Homo sapiens: one gene and its partners. The protein of the gene in region 1 interacts with the protein of each later gene in a biochemical or structural test. Each region holds a gene or a part of one and is shown in the gene's direction. Other genes may lie near its edges.

Evidence for each region.
Region 2: the proteins of PKN1 (region 1) and NEUROD2 form a complex in vitro, tested with the Homo sapiens proteins (one study listed by BioGRID).
Region 3: of the proteins of PKN1 (region 1) and HDAC5, one has a biochemical effect on the other in vitro, tested with the Homo sapiens proteins (one study listed by BioGRID).
Region 4: of the proteins of PKN1 (region 1) and MBP, one has a biochemical effect on the other in vitro, tested with the Homo sapiens proteins (one study listed by BioGRID).

Annotation. Positions count from the first base shown.
Region 1 is NC_000019.10:14,456,932-14,460,819, forward strand, and holds part of PKN1 (serine/threonine-protein kinase N1), read left to right. Parts: intron 1-1,099; coding exon 1,100-1,209; intron 1,210-1,300; coding exon 1,301-1,444; intron 1,445-3,888. UniProt on the Homo sapiens protein: PKC-related serine/threonine-protein kinase involved in various processes such as regulation of the intermediate filaments of the actin cytoskeleton, cell migration, tumor cell invasion and transcription regulation.
Region 2 is NC_000017.11:39,604,949-39,609,467, reverse strand, and holds the start of NEUROD2 (neurogenic differentiation factor 2), read left to right. Parts: upstream 1-1,547; 5' UTR 1,548-1,740; intron 1,741-2,863; 5' UTR 2,864-2,868; coding exon 2,869-4,017; 3' UTR 4,018-4,519. UniProt on the Homo sapiens protein: Transcriptional regulator implicated in neuronal determination. Mediates calcium-dependent transcription activation by binding to E box-containing promoter.
Region 3 is NC_000017.11:44,078,370-44,082,257, reverse strand, and holds part of HDAC5 (histone deacetylase 5), read left to right. Parts: intron 1-1,375; coding exon 1,376-1,495; intron 1,496-1,759; coding exon 1,760-1,857; intron 1,858-2,032; coding exon 2,033-2,151; intron 2,152-2,980; coding exon 2,981-3,114; intron 3,115-3,378; coding exon 3,379-3,463; intron 3,464-3,592; coding exon 3,593-3,758; intron 3,759-3,842; coding exon 3,843-3,882; 3' UTR 3,883-3,888. UniProt on the Homo sapiens protein: Responsible for the deacetylation of lysine residues on the N-terminal part of the core histones (H2A, H2B, H3 and H4).
Region 4 is NC_000018.10:77,126,022-77,129,909, reverse strand, and holds part of MBP (Golli-MBP), read left to right. Parts: exon of another isoform or gene 1-1,550; intron 1,551-2,261; exon of another isoform or gene 2,262-3,888. UniProt on the Homo sapiens protein: The classic group of MBP isoforms (isoform 4-isoform 14) are with PLP the most abundant protein components of the myelin membrane in the CNS. They have a role in both its formation and stabilization.

The DNA of each region.
Region 1 (3,888 bases):
GTGCCACTGCACTCCATCCTGGGTGACAGAGAGAGACTCTGGCTCAAAAAATAAATGAATAAATAAATCCTTAGGAGTATGTGGCTGGGACTTCCATGTAGAATAAAATTGAATTTGGATCCCTGCCTCACATCACACCATGTAAAAAAATCAACTGGATTAAAGGCTTCAATGTCAAATGCAAAACTTTACAGTGGGAGAAAAGTTATGGAGGGGAGGATTCATTTTAAAAAGATAGCAGACAGCTAGGCCTGGTGGCTCATGCCTGTAATCCCAGATACTTGGGAGGCTGAGGCAGGAGAATATCACTTGAGGCCAGGAGTTTGAGACCAGCCTGGGCAACATAACAAGACTCATCTCTACTGAAAAAAAAAAAAAAAAAGAAAAAGATAATAGACATGCCCCTTTCTGCCAGGATTTTCTTTCTTTTTCTTTTTTTTTTTTCTTTTTTTTTTTTTTTGAGATGGAGCTTCACTCTTGTTGCCCAGGCTGGAGTGCAGTGGCGTGATCTCGGCTCACTGCAACCTCTGCCTCCTGGGTTCAAGGGATTCTCCTGCCTCAGCCTCCCGAGTAACTGGGATTACAGGCATGTGCAACCACGCCTGGGTAATTTTTTATTTTTAGTAGACATGGGGTTTCACCATGTTGGTCAGGCTGGTCTCAAACTTCTGACCTCAGGTGATCCACCTGCCTCAGCCTCCGAAAGTGTTGAGATTACAGGCATGAGCCACTGTGCCTGGCCGTTTTTATTTTCTCTTCTCTTCTCTTCTCTCTTTTCGACCGAGTCTTGCTGTGTCACGCAGGCTGGAGCGCAGTAGCACGATCTTGGCTCACTACAACCTCTGCCTCCTGGGTTCAAGTGATTCTCCTTCCTCAGCCTCCCGAGTAGCTGGCATTACAGGCGCGTGCCACCACGCCCAGCTAATTTTTTGTATTTTTAGTAGAGACGGGGTTTCGCTATGATGGCCAGGCTGGTCTTGAACTCCTGGCCTCAAGTGATCGCCTGCCTCAACCTCCTAAAGTGCCGGGATTACAGGCATGAGCAACCTTGTCTGGCTACTGCCAGCATTTTCTGACTGGGCCCTCTCTCCCATTTCAGGTGAAGTCAGCACTGTGCTTAAGCTGGATAACACAGTGGTGGGGCAGACGTCTTGGAAGCCATGTGGCCCCAATGCCTGGGACCAGAGCTTCACTCTGGAGCTGGAAAGGGTGAGCTGCGTTGGAGGACAGCAGGGCCTAGAGGAGGAGGGGTTCCATGCCTCTGGCACCCTGAGTGATGGCCCTCTTCCTCTCCCTCCAGGCACGGGAACTGGAGTTGGCTGTGTTCTGGCGGGACCAGCGGGGCCTGTGTGCCCTCAAATTCCTGAAGTTGGAGGATTTCTTGGACAATGAGAGGCATGAGGTGCAGCTGGACATGGAACCCCAGGGCTGCCTGGTGGCTGAGGTATAGCCCACACCTGACCCTGAGAAAATGCTTCTTCTCCCTCACTGCCCCATTCCCAGTTTCCTAGAAGGGGAAAATATGTTTTAGGTCTGGCTCTTCCAGAAGGGGAAGATAAGTTTTAAGTCAGGCTTTTCTAGAAGAGGAAAATAGATTTTAGATCCAGCTCTTCTAGAAACGGAAGATATGTTTTAACTCTGCCTTTTCTAGAAGGAGAAGATACGTTTTAGGTCAGGCTCTTCCAGAAGGGGAAGAGACGTTTTAGGTCTGCTTTTTTCTAGAAGGGAAAGATATGTTTTAGATCAGGCTCTTCTAGAAAGGGAAGATAGGCTTTTGATCTGCCTGTTCTAGGCTGGGCGTGGTGGCTCATGCCTGTAATCCCAGCACTTCGGAAGGCTGAGGCAGGAGGATCACCTGAGGTCAGGGAGACCAGCCTGGGCAACATGGTAAAACCGCGTCTCAACTAAAAGTACAAAATTAGCTGGGCGTCGTGGCACATGCCTTTAGTCCCAGCTACTTGGGAGGCTGAGACAGGAGAATCGCTTGAACCCAGGAGGCGGAGGCTGCAGTGAGCTGAGATCCCACCACTGCACTCCAGCCTGGGCGACAGAGTGAGACTCTGTCGCCCAGGAGTCTCACAAAAAAAAAAAAGATCTGCTTGTTCTAGAAGGGGAAGATACATTTTAGATCAGGCTCTTTTAGAAGCATAAGATATGTTTTAGATATGGTTTCTCTTAATACAGAAAGATAGTTTTAGATCAGGCTCTTTCAGAAGTGGCAGGTATGTTTTAGACCCGTGTATTCTAGAAGGGGAAGATACATTTTAGATCTGTCTCTGAACCTTGATAGAAAAGTACACCTTGGCCAGGTGTGGTGGCTCACGCCTGTAATCCCAGCACTTTGGGAGGCTGAGGCAGGTGGATCACTTGAGGCCAGGAGTTCCAGACTAGCCTGGCCAACATGGTGAAACCCCATCTCTATTAAAAATACAAAAATTAGCTGGGCATGATAGTGGGTACCTGTAATCCCAGCTACTTGGGAGGCTGAGGCAGGAGAATTGCTTGAACCCAGGAGACAGAGGTTGCAGTGAGCTGAGATCACGCCATTGCACTCCAGCCTGGGCAACAGAGTGAGACTCTTGTCTCAAAAAAAAAAAAAAAAGAAGAAGAAGAAGAAGAAAAGCACTTCTAATTAGCCACATCAGTGATAGGACCTTAGCTGGGATTGGTTTTGTTCTGAGGCAAGATACTTAAAAAAAAAAAAAAAGAAGAAGAAGAAGCTGATTTCCAAATTTAGAAATGTTTAAAGAAAAAAGGAAATAAATTATAAAATTTCTTCCAACCAGGAAAGAGATACAAAACCTGGCAACATATCGTGGTGATTGCTACCAGAGCCACAGTCAAGAGAAAGTGATTCCTTCCACAGCTGTGTGAGGGTGAAGGTCTGAATTGAGGTGGCCTACCCTTGGCACTGTTGACATCTGGGGCCACATCATCCTCTGTGGTGGGGCTGTCCTGCATACTAGAGGATGTAGCACCTCTCCCCACTGCTTACAGGATGTCAGTAGCACCACCTCCCCCTGAGTTTTGACAGCCCAGAGGTCTCCAGACACTGTCAAGTGCTCCCTGGCCGGGAACCCCTGGTCTAAATGACATTTCTAGCTGAGTTCTCATAGTATAAGCCAGGCTCTGTAGCGAGTACTTTGGCGACGTGAACTCATTAATTCTCACAACCAACCAACAAAAGAGGGACTGTTATTACTCAAATTTGACAGAGGAGGAAACTGGGGCACAGAGAAGGGGCACTTGACCCCTCATTTAGCCAAATTATCCTAAAAAACTCTTTTAATCTTCCGCTAACCTATATGTGTACCCCATTTTACATATATATATGATAGATTACCTATATATGTATACACACACATATTATCTATTATTTACCCACCTACGTGTCCATCCATCCATTTTGTCTGTCTATGCATTCATCCATCCATCTTTTTTTTTTTTTTTTTTTTTTGAGATGGAGTCTCGCTGTCTCCCAGGCTGGAGTGCAGTGGTGCGATCTTGGCTCACTGCAACCTCTGCTTCCCGGGTTCATGCCATTCTCCTGCCTCAGCCTCCCGAGTAGCTGGGACTACAGGCACCCGCTACCACGCCCGGATAATTTTTTGTATTTTTAGTAGAGACGGGGTTTCACCCACCGTGTTAGCCAGGATGGTCTCCATCTCCTGACCTCGTGATCTGCCCGCCTTGGCCTCCCAAAGTGCTGGGATTACCGGCGTGAGCCACCGCGCCCGGCCCAGCCATCTTATCAATGCATCCTCTATCCATTGATAGATACACCTATATTATCTGTCTTATCTATGTATCCATCTATATTAGGTATCTATATCATCTATTTATCTAATCCATCTATCCATTTATCTATCTCTATCTATATATTATCTA
Region 2 (4,519 bases), on another chromosome or scaffold:
TGCTCATTTTTGTACCACCACAGTGCTTGGCACATGGTAGACATCAAAATGTGTGTGCTGAAAGTATAATTGAAGTTGTGTATATATGTCAGCTAGAGTGTCTGGAGGGGCAGAAATGTGGGTCTAAAACATACAAATGCTCCAAATGGGGTGTGGGCAAGGGTCTGTCTACACCAGGCTGTGATTACCTGCTCACATACATGTGTCTATCTGAGTAGGGGTATGTTATCTATTTTTCTACACCACAGGGTGAGGAACAGGTATATGTGTGCATGTGTATGCATCCGTGTGTGTGTGTATGTGTGTGTGCATGAGTGTGTGTGTGTGTGTCCAAAGCCACCTCTTCAACCTGTGCCATTTGTATCTGTGTCTGGCCCAATGAGAGTGTTGAAAGGTGAGCCACAAGATAAAACAGCAACTTCCTACCTCCCTTATCAAGACAGCTGTCTGACCTACCTCCCCTTGGCCACTCTTGGGATTACTGGGGTTGGCTTCAGTATTTTCAGATTTTTCAGAAGGGGAGGAGAATGCTTGAGTCTCATCCAGGAACTTAGGCAGTTCTCAGCACTGCCTGCTCCTCCTCCCTCAAATAACCAAGTCTGAAGACCAGGAGAGAAAGCCGCTGGTGGACTGGTCACCTGTCTGGCAGTGGGAGGAGGAGAGTGAGAGGTTTCTAGGTTAGGAATCCAGACTTAGACCCTCCCCTCCACCCCCAGATGGGTGGTGCACAGGCTCATCTCGCGGCCCCTCCCCACTCCACCCTAACATGGATACGCCCCCAACAACCAAGGAAAGATCTCCCATCGGCTGACTCCACAGATACACACATGTCCCCACAGACACACACACGCCCATGCAGAGGCACAGACATCCAGGCACATCTTTCCCTTTCTCTGTCTTTCCCTTGGTTTGAATTTCGTTTAGCCACATATGTTGTGTGTGCGTGAGGGTGGGTGGGGGAGGGGCAGACAGGGATGAGGGATGGCATGGTGCCAACATCTACCTATGGGGCTCGGGCCAGGGACGCCCCTTACAGCCATCCTGGGAGGGGGTCTCAGCTGTCCCTTTGTGGCCAAGGGGACCCTCCTGGGGAGTGGGGGCAAGCACAGAGGTCCTTTCTCCCCAACCCGGGGTCTGGTCCCTGACCCACCTTGGGGGCCTGCAGGGGAGGAAATGGACAGAGCGGGACCCTGAGGGAGCATAGAATTGGCCACCACGAGCCCCCAGTGTCCAGCCTTGCCACCCCATTGTTCCCGTGAGGGGGTCTCTATATACAGGGGGCAACTCCTCCCACCTTCCTCTCAATCCCTGCTTTCCCTGCGTTGGGCGGGGAGGGGAGGGCGGCAGAAATATTTATTTATTTCCTTTATTTATTTAATTTTTTTTTTTTTTTTTGGAGTAGAGAGTGACAGATGGCGGCGGGTCCCGGGGGAGCCGGCTCTCCCCCAGTGCAGACGCATGCCAATCACCGTCTCTCATGTGATAGCTGCTGCCCGTGACGTGCCAAGCCCATATGGCCTGGCATAGAGGCTGGTACCCCGCCTGGTAGAGATGCCACACTCGCTCCGCGGTTCGCATGGCGCTCTGAAGACGCCGGCGCCCGCCGCCTTGAGGAGCCGCTGCCCCCGCTCCCTGAAGATGGGGGAACAATGAAATAAGCGAGAAGATCCCTCTTCTCCCCCCTCTCTCTCTTGCCCCCTCCCCCCCTCCCCTCCCCTCTCCCCTTGACTCCTCTCCGAGGTAAGTTGTCCGAAAGGGAGCGAGATCTGACCCGCCGGTTGGGAGGAGGGGCGGCAGCTTCGGCCGACAGGAGGGTCCTCAAATACCTCCTTCCTGGGATGATGCCCCCCTCATTGGGTGGGCATCGGAGGGGCCCCAGGTTCTCTCTCCCTTAGGGGCTGCAGCCCAGGGGGCTGCAGAGGAGGTGTCTCTGCCTGCGATGGGCTCGGTGGGGGGGGAAGGCAGGATCACGGAGGGGGATATGCGAAGAGGCCGAGACGGAGGACCCCTCCATGGTTGTCCCAAAAAGCCTGCCACCTTTCCCCACCACCGAAAAAAGGGAAGCAAACAAACAAATTTGGATTTTTCCCCCATCAATCCCAAAATACAACGAGATCTGAAGAGCCTTGTGGGAGGGAGTCAGCTTGAAGGGGGAAGGGGGTCCCTGACCGCAGAGGGGACGGACTGGGCTCGCTTCTCTCAGTCTCCTCCCCACGCCCCGCTGCTTCAGTCCTCGCCGCCCAGAGCCGGCTCCGGGAGCTGGGGACGCATCGGCTAGAGGAGACGATCCTCCCGCCTCTGGAATTGGGGGTGCGGGGGTGGGGGCCGAGCAAGGGGCGGCGCGCAGCCAAGTTGCAAATTGGATTAGGGAGCGTGGGGGTGAGAGCCACGGGAGGGGTGAGGGAGCTGGGCCGGGGGGCCCGGGCCGCGAGAGCGCGGAGCGGGGCAGCTGTCCCCACCGGCGGCCGACCAGCCTCTCTCCACCGCCAGGAGAGAACGGGCTTTCAGGGCGAGCGCGCCGCCTCCCCTGGCAAAGATATCTGGTCCCTAAAACCCCCACCCGGTCCCTGCCCTGACCCTGAGAAGAAGCAGGCGCGGGGAGCAGCCCCCCATTCAAGCGAGGGGCGGAGCCGGGGCCCAGCGCCGGGGAGAGGGCCTGGGCCGAGATCCCAGGCCGGCAGCCGGGTAGGGCTGGGCCGGCTCTGGGCGGGGCAGGCGGCGGAGGTGGGCATCCAGGGTAGCCTAGGCAGGAGCCCGCACGAGACTCGGGGGTGGAGGAGGGTTGTGGGGGGGCGTCGGTACCCCAGCGCGCCCCTCACTTTGTGCTGTCTGTCTCCCCTTCCCGCCCGCGGGGCGCCCTCAGGCACCATGCTGACCCGCCTGTTCAGCGAGCCCGGCCTTCTCTCGGACGTGCCCAAGTTCGCCAGCTGGGGCGACGGCGAAGACGACGAGCCGAGGAGCGACAAGGGCGACGCGCCGCCACCGCCACCGCCTGCGCCCGGGCCAGGGGCTCCGGGGCCAGCCCGGGCGGCCAAGCCAGTCCCTCTCCGTGGAGAAGAGGGGACGGAGGCCACGTTGGCCGAGGTCAAGGAGGAAGGCGAGCTGGGGGGAGAGGAGGAGGAGGAAGAGGAGGAGGAAGAAGGACTGGACGAGGCGGAGGGCGAGCGGCCCAAGAAGCGCGGGCCCAAGAAGCGCAAGATGACCAAGGCGCGCTTGGAGCGCTCCAAGCTTCGGCGGCAGAAGGCGAACGCGCGGGAGCGCAACCGCATGCACGACCTGAACGCAGCCCTGGACAACCTGCGCAAGGTGGTGCCCTGCTACTCCAAGACGCAGAAGCTGTCCAAGATCGAGACGCTGCGCCTAGCCAAGAACTATATCTGGGCGCTCTCGGAGATCCTGCGCTCCGGCAAGCGGCCAGACCTAGTGTCCTACGTGCAGACTCTGTGCAAGGGTCTGTCGCAGCCCACCACCAATCTGGTGGCCGGCTGTCTGCAGCTCAACTCTCGCAACTTCCTCACGGAGCAAGGCGCCGACGGTGCCGGCCGCTTCCACGGCTCGGGCGGCCCGTTCGCCATGCACCCCTACCCGTACCCGTGCTCGCGCCTGGCGGGCGCACAGTGCCAGGCGGCCGGCGGCCTGGGCGGCGGCGCGGCGCACGCCCTGCGGACCCACGGCTACTGCGCCGCCTACGAGACGCTGTATGCGGCGGCAGGCGGTGGCGGCGCGAGCCCGGACTACAACAGCTCCGAGTACGAGGGCCCGCTCAGCCCCCCGCTCTGTCTCAATGGCAACTTCTCACTCAAGCAGGACTCCTCGCCCGACCACGAGAAAAGCTACCACTACTCTATGCACTACTCGGCGCTGCCCGGTTCGCGGCCCACGGGCCACGGGCTAGTCTTCGGCTCGTCGGCTGTGCGCGGGGGCGTCCACTCGGAGAATCTCTTGTCTTACGATATGCACCTTCACCACGACCGGGGCCCCATGTACGAGGAGCTCAATGCGTTTTTTCATAACTGAGACTTCGCGCCGGCTCCCTTCTTTTTCTTTTGCCTTTGCCCGCCCCCCTGTCCCCAGCCCCCAGAGCGCAGGGACACCCCCATCCTACCCCGGCGCCGGGCGCGGGGAGCGGGCCACCGGTCCTGCCGCTCTCCTGGGGCAGCGCAGTCCTGTTACCTGTGGGTGGCCTGTCCCAGGGGCCTCGCTTCCCCCAGGGGACTCGCCTTCTCTCTCCCCAAGGGGTTCCCTCCTCCTCTCTCCCAAGGAGTGCTTCTCCAGGGACCTCTCTCCGGGGGCTCCCTGGAGGCACCCCTCCCCCATTCCCAATATCTTCGCTGAGGTTTCCTCCTCCCCCTCCTCCCTGCAGGCCCAAGGCGTTGGTAAGGGGGCAGCTGAGCAATGGAACGCGTTTCCCCCTCTCATTATTATTTTAAAAACAGACACCCAGCTGCCGAGGCAAAAAGGAGCCAGGCGCTCCCTCTTTCTTGAAGAGGGTAGAAGTTAGGGCGCCGGAGCCCGGGCC
Region 3 (3,888 bases), on another chromosome or scaffold:
CACCCCCTACAATTAGGAGCAGACTGTATACCAGGAACACAATGAGTACTTTATGGCCACCTCGAGTAGTAAGAACGAGGATGTCCATTTCTGTGAACAAAGGTGTTGTTGCGTGACTTACCCAAGGCCACTCAGCTGGGGATGTCGGCACTGGGTTTCAGACCAAGGCTTTTGGCCCCAGCACTCTGCTCTTGCTACCATGGGTGCTTCCCAAACCCTGCTCCTAATGGTGGAGGCAGAGGCACACACCACTCTCTGTGAGCTGGGGAAGTAGCCAGGACCAAGCCTCAGGAAGGACAAAATCTCTTGGAAGCCCAATTCTGGCTTAAAAATTCATGTAAATGTTGGATCCTCCTTCAGAATCTTACGTGCTTGTGGTTGGGCACAATGGCTCAAAGCCTGTAATCCCAGCATTTTGGGAGGCCAAGGTGGGTGAATCACTTGGGGTCAGGAGTTCGAGACCAGGATGGCCAACATGGTGAAACCCTGTCTCCACTGAAAATTCAAAAAAATTAGTTAGGTGTGGTGGCGGGAGCCTGTAATCCCACCTATTGGGGAGGCTGAGGCAGGAGAATTCCTTGAACCTGGGAAGTGGAGGTTGCAGTGAGTCAAGATCATGCCACTGCACTCCAGCCTCGATGACAGAGTGAGATTCTGTCTCAAAAAAAAAAAAAAAAGAAAGAAAAGAAAAAGGAAAACAAAAAAGGCCGGGTACAGTGACTCATGCCTGTAATCCCAGCACTTTGAGAGGCCGAGGTGGGTGGATCACCTGAGGTCAGGAGTTTGAGACCAGCCTGGCCAACATGGTGAAACCCCATCTCTACTAAAAATACAAAAAAAATTGGCCGGGCATAGTGGTGGGCGCCTGTAATCCCAGCTACTCGGGAGGCTGAGGCAGGAGAATCGCTTGAACCCGGGAGGTGGAGGTTGCAGTGAGCCCAGATCGTGCCACTGCACTCTAGCCTGGGCAACAAGAGTGAAACTTGGTCTCAAAAAAAAAAAAGAAAGAATCTCATCTGCCTGTTTTAAATTCCCTACTAGCCTTAATGTTTTCCCCAAAACTGTGAGGTGGAATGGGTTCTGTAGGGAGATATGCCACATTTATCCCATGGTTTTGAATATCACCTACACAGTGCCACCCCACAGAGGCTCAGACCTAGTTAGAGAAGTGTGGGGTGTGCAATACCATTGTGAACAGAATATGGATGCCCTGTGGCCAAGGGTGGAGTCCTGGGCTCAAGCGATCCTCCCAGCCCTCAGCCTCCCAAAATGCTAGGATTACAGGCATGAGCTACAGTGCTCAGCTGACAGGTGGAATTTGACCATTGGGTCAGAGCGCGGGCCATTTTCCCGATGCTTCTACCTCCCCTCATAGGACATTCACCATGGCAATGGCACCCAGCAGGCGTTCTACAATGACCCCTCTGTGCTCTACATCTCTCTGCATCGCTATGACAACGGGAACTTCTTTCCAGGCTCTGGGGCTCCTGAAGAGGTACAGCTCCTGGGCGTAAATGCAGACCCTCCTGGCCCCTCTGGGAGGTGGCACAATGGGACCTGGCGGGGAGCCACGGAGGCCCATGGTGGTGTTGGTACCTGGGGAGTCTGGGCTCCTAGTGGGAGGACCACACTGATCTGACTGCCCCTCCAGGCAGAGCAGAGGTCAGTGGAGTGAGATCTGGAGGCAGGGGTGAGGGCAGGGGCAATGTTTGGGACTCCCAGGTGGTGAGAATAGCCCTCTCCCCAACTCTGGTGCCAGGTTGGTGGAGGACCAGGCGTGGGGTACAATGTGAACGTGGCATGGACAGGAGGTGTGGACCCCCCCATTGGAGACGTGGAGTACCTTACAGCCTTCAGGTAGGGACTGAAAAGGGCCATGGTAGTCAGTGGGAGCCCCTCTGGGCCCTGCAGTGGGAGGGGCAGAAGGCACTCAGTTCAGTGTGGGTAGAGGGGGTTGTCTCTGGGAGGATAACAGTGGGGCGAGGCCTGGCCTGGTCATCTGCCGGGCTCAGCTTGAGCCATCCCTTTGCAGGACAGTGGTGATGCCCATTGCCCACGAGTTCTCACCTGATGTGGTCCTAGTCTCCGCCGGGTTTGATGCTGTTGAAGGACATCTGTCTCCTCTGGGTGGCTACTCTGTCACCGCCAGATGTAAGCCTGCTGGGGGATTGAGGGAGGAAGTGAAACAGTGAGGATATCGAGTCCAGTGAGGCATGGGGCAGGGAACAGACTGATATTGCAGCAGACGGGGAAAGCAGGGGGCAGGGCCTAGACTTGGAATCATCTTGGTAACTCCCCCAACTTGTCCTCTGCCAACCCCGGCCTTGAGGGGATAGGAGGTGGCAGTGGGGTAGCAGAGGATAGAGGATGTATCCTGCCGGAGCTGTAGAGATGGGCTTGTTGGTCCCTGGTGTTTCAGTGATGCTCCTTGTCATTGGATTGGAGTCTTCAGCCAGTCTGTTAATGTTTTGACTGTGATAGGGCATTTAGTTCACTGATGCTGTATTTTATTATGGATATATTTGGGTTTATATCTCCCATCACATTTTGTGCTATTTGTCCCACCTCTTGTGTTTCTTTTTCTCTCCTTTTCTTTCTTTTTTTTTTTTTTTTTTTTTGAGGTGGAGTCTCACTCTGTCACCCAGGCTGGAGTGCAATGGCGTGATCTCGGCTCACTGCAACCTCCGCCTCCTGGGTTCATGCCATCCTCCTGCCTCAGCCTCCCAAGTAGCTGGGATTACAGGCGCGTGCCACCATGGCCGGCTAATTATTGTATTTTTAGTAGAGACGGGGTTTCACCATGTTGGTCAGGCTGGTCTCGAACTCCTGACCTTGTGATCTGCCCGCCTTGGCCTCCCAAAGTGCTGGGATTACAGGCGTGAGCCACCGCGCCTGGCCTTTTTTCTCTCCTCTTACTGGCTCTTGAATTGATTGATTACCTTTCGCCATTTCTTCTTCCTCCCTTCACCCATCCTCAAAGGTTTTGGCCACTTGACCAGGCAGCTGATGACCCTGGCAGGGGGCCGGGTGGTGCTGGCCCTGGAGGGAGGCCATGACTTGACCGCCATCTGTGATGCCTCTGAGGCTTGTGTCTCGGCTCTGCTCAGTGTAGAGGTAAGGGGTGGGAAGGAGCTGGGAGGTGGCAGGCCAGAGGTCTGAGGGGCCAGCAAGGGGTCAGCCAGCACTGGGAGCCCCTTAGGAAGCTTTTCCTTGGTCCTAAGGAACAGCTAATGGCCAGGCTTTCTGAGTATGCGTTTGTCCAAAAAGGCCATGTTTGCCCCTGTTGTGAGGGATATCTGGGGCTGAGTGGGGCAGTTAGAGGGGTATGCATGGCAACCCTACTCCCCACCCTAAGCCTTCTCTTCTTTCCCCTGCCAGCTGCAGCCCTTGGATGAGGCAGTCTTGCAGCAAAAGCCCAACATCAACGCAGTGGCCACGCTAGAGAAAGTCATCGAGATCCAGAGTGCGTGAGGACACGTAGAGGGGCTCAGGCTGCCAAGGGGGCACGGAGCTTGTGGGAGCACCAGGACTGGGACTGTTCATGTGGGTGTCCTCTGCCCTCCCTGACCCCTTGCCTGTCTCTCGTCCACAGGCAAACACTGGAGCTGTGTGCAGAAGTTCGCCGCTGGTCTGGGCCGGTCCCTGCGAGAGGCCCAAGCAGGTGAGACCGAGGAGGCCGAGACTGTGAGCGCCATGGCCTTGCTGTCGGTGGGGGCCGAGCAGGCCCAGGCTGCGGCAGCCCGGGAACACAGCCCCAGGTAAGCAGCAACCCGCACCACCTCTCTGCCCTCACCCCTGCTGGTGCGCCCCACTCAATACCCTCCCCTGTGCTTGCCCCACAGGCCGGCAGAGGAGCCCATGGAGCAGGAGCCTGCCCTGTGACGCCCC
Region 4 (3,888 bases), on another chromosome or scaffold:
ACCTGGCTGATTTTTGCGTTTTTTTGTTTGTTTTTGTTTTTTAGTAAAGATGGGGCCTCACCATGTTGGCCAGGCTGGTCTCAAACTCCTGACCTCAAGTGATCCACCCACCTCGGCCTCCCAAAGTGCTGGGATTACAGGCATGAGCCACCGCGCCTGGCCTCTAATTACTCTTGGGATAATTTTAAATAAGTGGCCATTAAGTAGTAAGACACTTCTGTTGGCCCATTGGAACCCGTGAAGGAAGCTCTGGAGCTGTTTAAGGGAAGAGTGCTCATGCCACAGGCCCTAATGCCAGCTGAGCAGAAATGCCAGGCGAGTAGCTGGAATAGTCTCTACAGGAGATTTTAAATCTCTGTCAAAACCTGTAGTGGACAGGCTTCATCCAGAGAAACAGAAGCAGGTGGAGATACACATTAGAGACTCATGGCAAGGAATGGCTTATGCAGAGGTGGGCTGGCCAGGTTTGTGGGACGTCTGTAGGACAGGCCAGCCAGAAGGCAGCTGATCTCCCCGGCCGACTGAAGCTGCCTTCCACAGCAACATCTCCCACATGCCAGCAACAACCACGAGTGCATGTTCCAAAGCTATTAGTAATGTCTCACACTCAATAGCCATTAAAGCGTAAAAATGTCATTCCGAATGTTCTTTTGTTCTGGACTCTGTGAATAGCACTGCGTTGGTCTGAGTCACCATTGTGAAAAATAGGTGGATATCTAAAAGATGAGGAGAAACAGACCTATGTGAGGCCAGGATCTAGAATACAGAAACAGTTCTAAAATGTGGTAATTTGAAACAAGCCACTCAAGAGTAAAATATGAGACTAATGAGAAAACCCAGATGGACTGATAAAATAAGAAAAGGACTTTAACCCTCTGGGAATCAGGGAATTCAAAACTAAGATGGCAAAAAGATTTTTTTTTACCTTTACGGTACTGGAAAAAAATTTAAATTGTGACTATACCAAATATTAGAGAAGGTGTAGAAAACTTAGACCTCACATGAGTTCGACTAGAATGTAAATAGGAACAAAGATGTTAGAGAATAATCTAGAAAAAGTGAAGGTGGGTGTATCCTAAGATCTAACAATTCCACTTCTAGGTATCTCCTCTAGGGAAAACCTGGTCTGTGTGCATAAGACACACACAGTGGATATTCACTGAAGCAATGTAGTAAAACCCTGTTTTGAGATCATGTAGATTCACATGCAATTCCCTTCACCAGTTTCTCCCAACAATAACATCTTACAAAACCATAGTACAATGCCACAACTAGAAAATGAGCATTGATACAACCCATTAACTTTGTTCAGATTTCAGATTCCACCAGTTTACATGTACTCATTTTATAGACTGCTCTGTGTGTGTGTGTGTGTGTGTGTGTGTGTGGTATGCACGTGCGCTTAGTTCTCTGTAATTTTATCACCCATGTAGAACCATGTGACCACCAACACATCAGAGGACAGGAGAGTTTCATCACAGGATCCTTGATGCTACTCTTTATAGCCAAGCTGACTTCCTCCTTCCCCCTCCCTGAGGCTGGCAACCACAGTATGGTTCCTATTTTCTATAATTTTGTCGCTTTAAGAATGCTCTATAAATGGAATCATACACTATGCAACCTTTCGAGACTGGCTTTTTCCGCTAAACGCAATTCCCTTGAGACCCATCCGGGTTGGCAAGCATGTCCATAGGTGTTTCTTTTTAATTACTTAGTGGTGTTCCGTCATCTGGATGAACCAAGGTGTGTTCAACCGTTCACCCAGGAAGGGCACTTGGATTATTTCCAGGTTTTGGTTATTGCAAATAGAGCTGCTGTGAACATTCTTGTACAGGTTTTTGTGTGAACATAGTTTTCATTTCTCTGGGATAAATGCCCAGGAGTGCAATTGCTGAGTCATATGGTTAGCACATGTCTAATTTTATGAGAAACTGCTAACTCTTTTCCAGAATGGCTACACCATTTTGCATTCCCACCGGCGGTGTGTGAGTGATTCAGGACCTTCCCAGCCTGGGCAGCATTTGGTATTGCCACTATTTTTTTTTTTTATTATTTTAGCTCTTCTAATAAGTGTGTAGTGATATCTCCTGATGGTTTAATTTGCATTGTCCTGATGGCTAATGACATCAAGACCTTTTTATGTACTTATGGCCATCTGTGTATCCTCCTCAGTGAAAAGTCTGTTCATGTCTTTTGCCTACTTTTTAATTGGATTGTTTGGTTTTAACAACTGAGTTTTCCTAATTCTTTATATTTTCTAGATGCTGGCCTTACCACTCGGTGATTATTTTCTACCACTTTATCTTGTTTTTTCACCCTCTTCACAGAGTCCTTTGCAGAAAGTTTTACATTTTGTTGAATTCAAGTTTATTAATTTTACCTTTTTTGGATTTTGATTTTTGGTGTGAAGTCTAAGTCTTCACCTAGCCTGAGGTTCCCGAAGATTTTCTCCTTTTTTCCCTACAAATTTTATAGTTTCACATTTTATACTTAAGCCTATTTTCCATTTTGAGTTAATTTTTGTATGAGGTGTGAGGTTTAGGTTGAGGCTTATTTGTTTTGGTTTGGTTTGGGTTTTGCCAACGAATGTCCAATAGCTCCGGGACTATTAGTTGAAAAGGTGATCCTTCTTCCATTAAATTGCTTTTGCACCTTTGCTAAAAACCGTTTCCACTTATTGCTGTGGGTCTATTTCTGGGTTCTCTATTCTGTTCCATTAGTCTATATGTCAGTCTCTCTGCCAAGAGCACACTGTCTTGATTACTGTAGTTGCATAGTCAACTTTAATCAGGTGGAGTGACTTCCTTCCACTTTATTATTCTTTATAAAACTTATGTTAGCTATTGTAGGTTCTGGGCCTTTCCATATGAATTTTAGAATAGCGCGTTTATGGGTGCAAAAACCTTGCTGGGATTTTGATAGGAATTTCTTCAAATGTATAGATTAGGGAGAATTAATAGTTCTACTGTGTTGAGTTTTCCAATCCATGATCACAGGTTGTCTCTCTATGGGTAATTAGGTCTTCTTTAACTTCTTTCATCAATGTTTTATAAATTTCAGTGCACAGATTCTGAATCTGAAATTTCTTTACAGTGTACATAAGTGTTTTATTTTCTTTGGGGCATTTCTAAATGGCATTGTGTCTTAACTTCAGTTTCCACGTTTATTGTGGAGTAGGTAGAACTGTGAGTAATTTTTATGTGTCAGTCCACATTCTGCAACCTACTGAGCTGCCTTATTAGATCTAGGAGGATTTTTTTTGGTAGATTTCTTGGGATTGTCTATGTAGATCATCATGTTATCTGCAAATTGGATAGTTTTATTTCTTCTTTCCAATTTATATACTTTTTATTTCTTTTTCTTATCTTACCGTACTGGTTAGAATGTCCAGTGCTATATTCAATAAGAGTTGCAAGAACTTGCCTTATTCTGACCTAAAGGGCAAAGCACTGAGTTTTTACCACCAATTATGATGTAGCTATAGGATTTTTATGGATGTTCTTTATCAAGTCAATAGTCCATGTCTATTCATGAATGTGTGTTGTATTTTGTCAAATGTCTTTTCTGGGACAATTTATATGTTCATGAGATTTTTCTTCTTTGACTTCATGGTATGATGGATAGTTGATTGACTGACTCTCTAATGCTGACCCACCCTTGAGTATCTGATATATATTCCACTTAGCCATGTATATAACTTTTTTATGTGTTGCTAGATTCACTTTACTAATATTTTGTTGAGGACTTTTGCCTCTAAGTGTTTGTGAGATATTGATCTATAGTTCTCATTTTTTGTATAGTCTTTGCTAGTTTCAGTATCAGGATAACTGGCCTCATAAAATGAGTTAGAAAGTGTTCCCACTTGTTCTAACTTTTGGAAGAGATTGT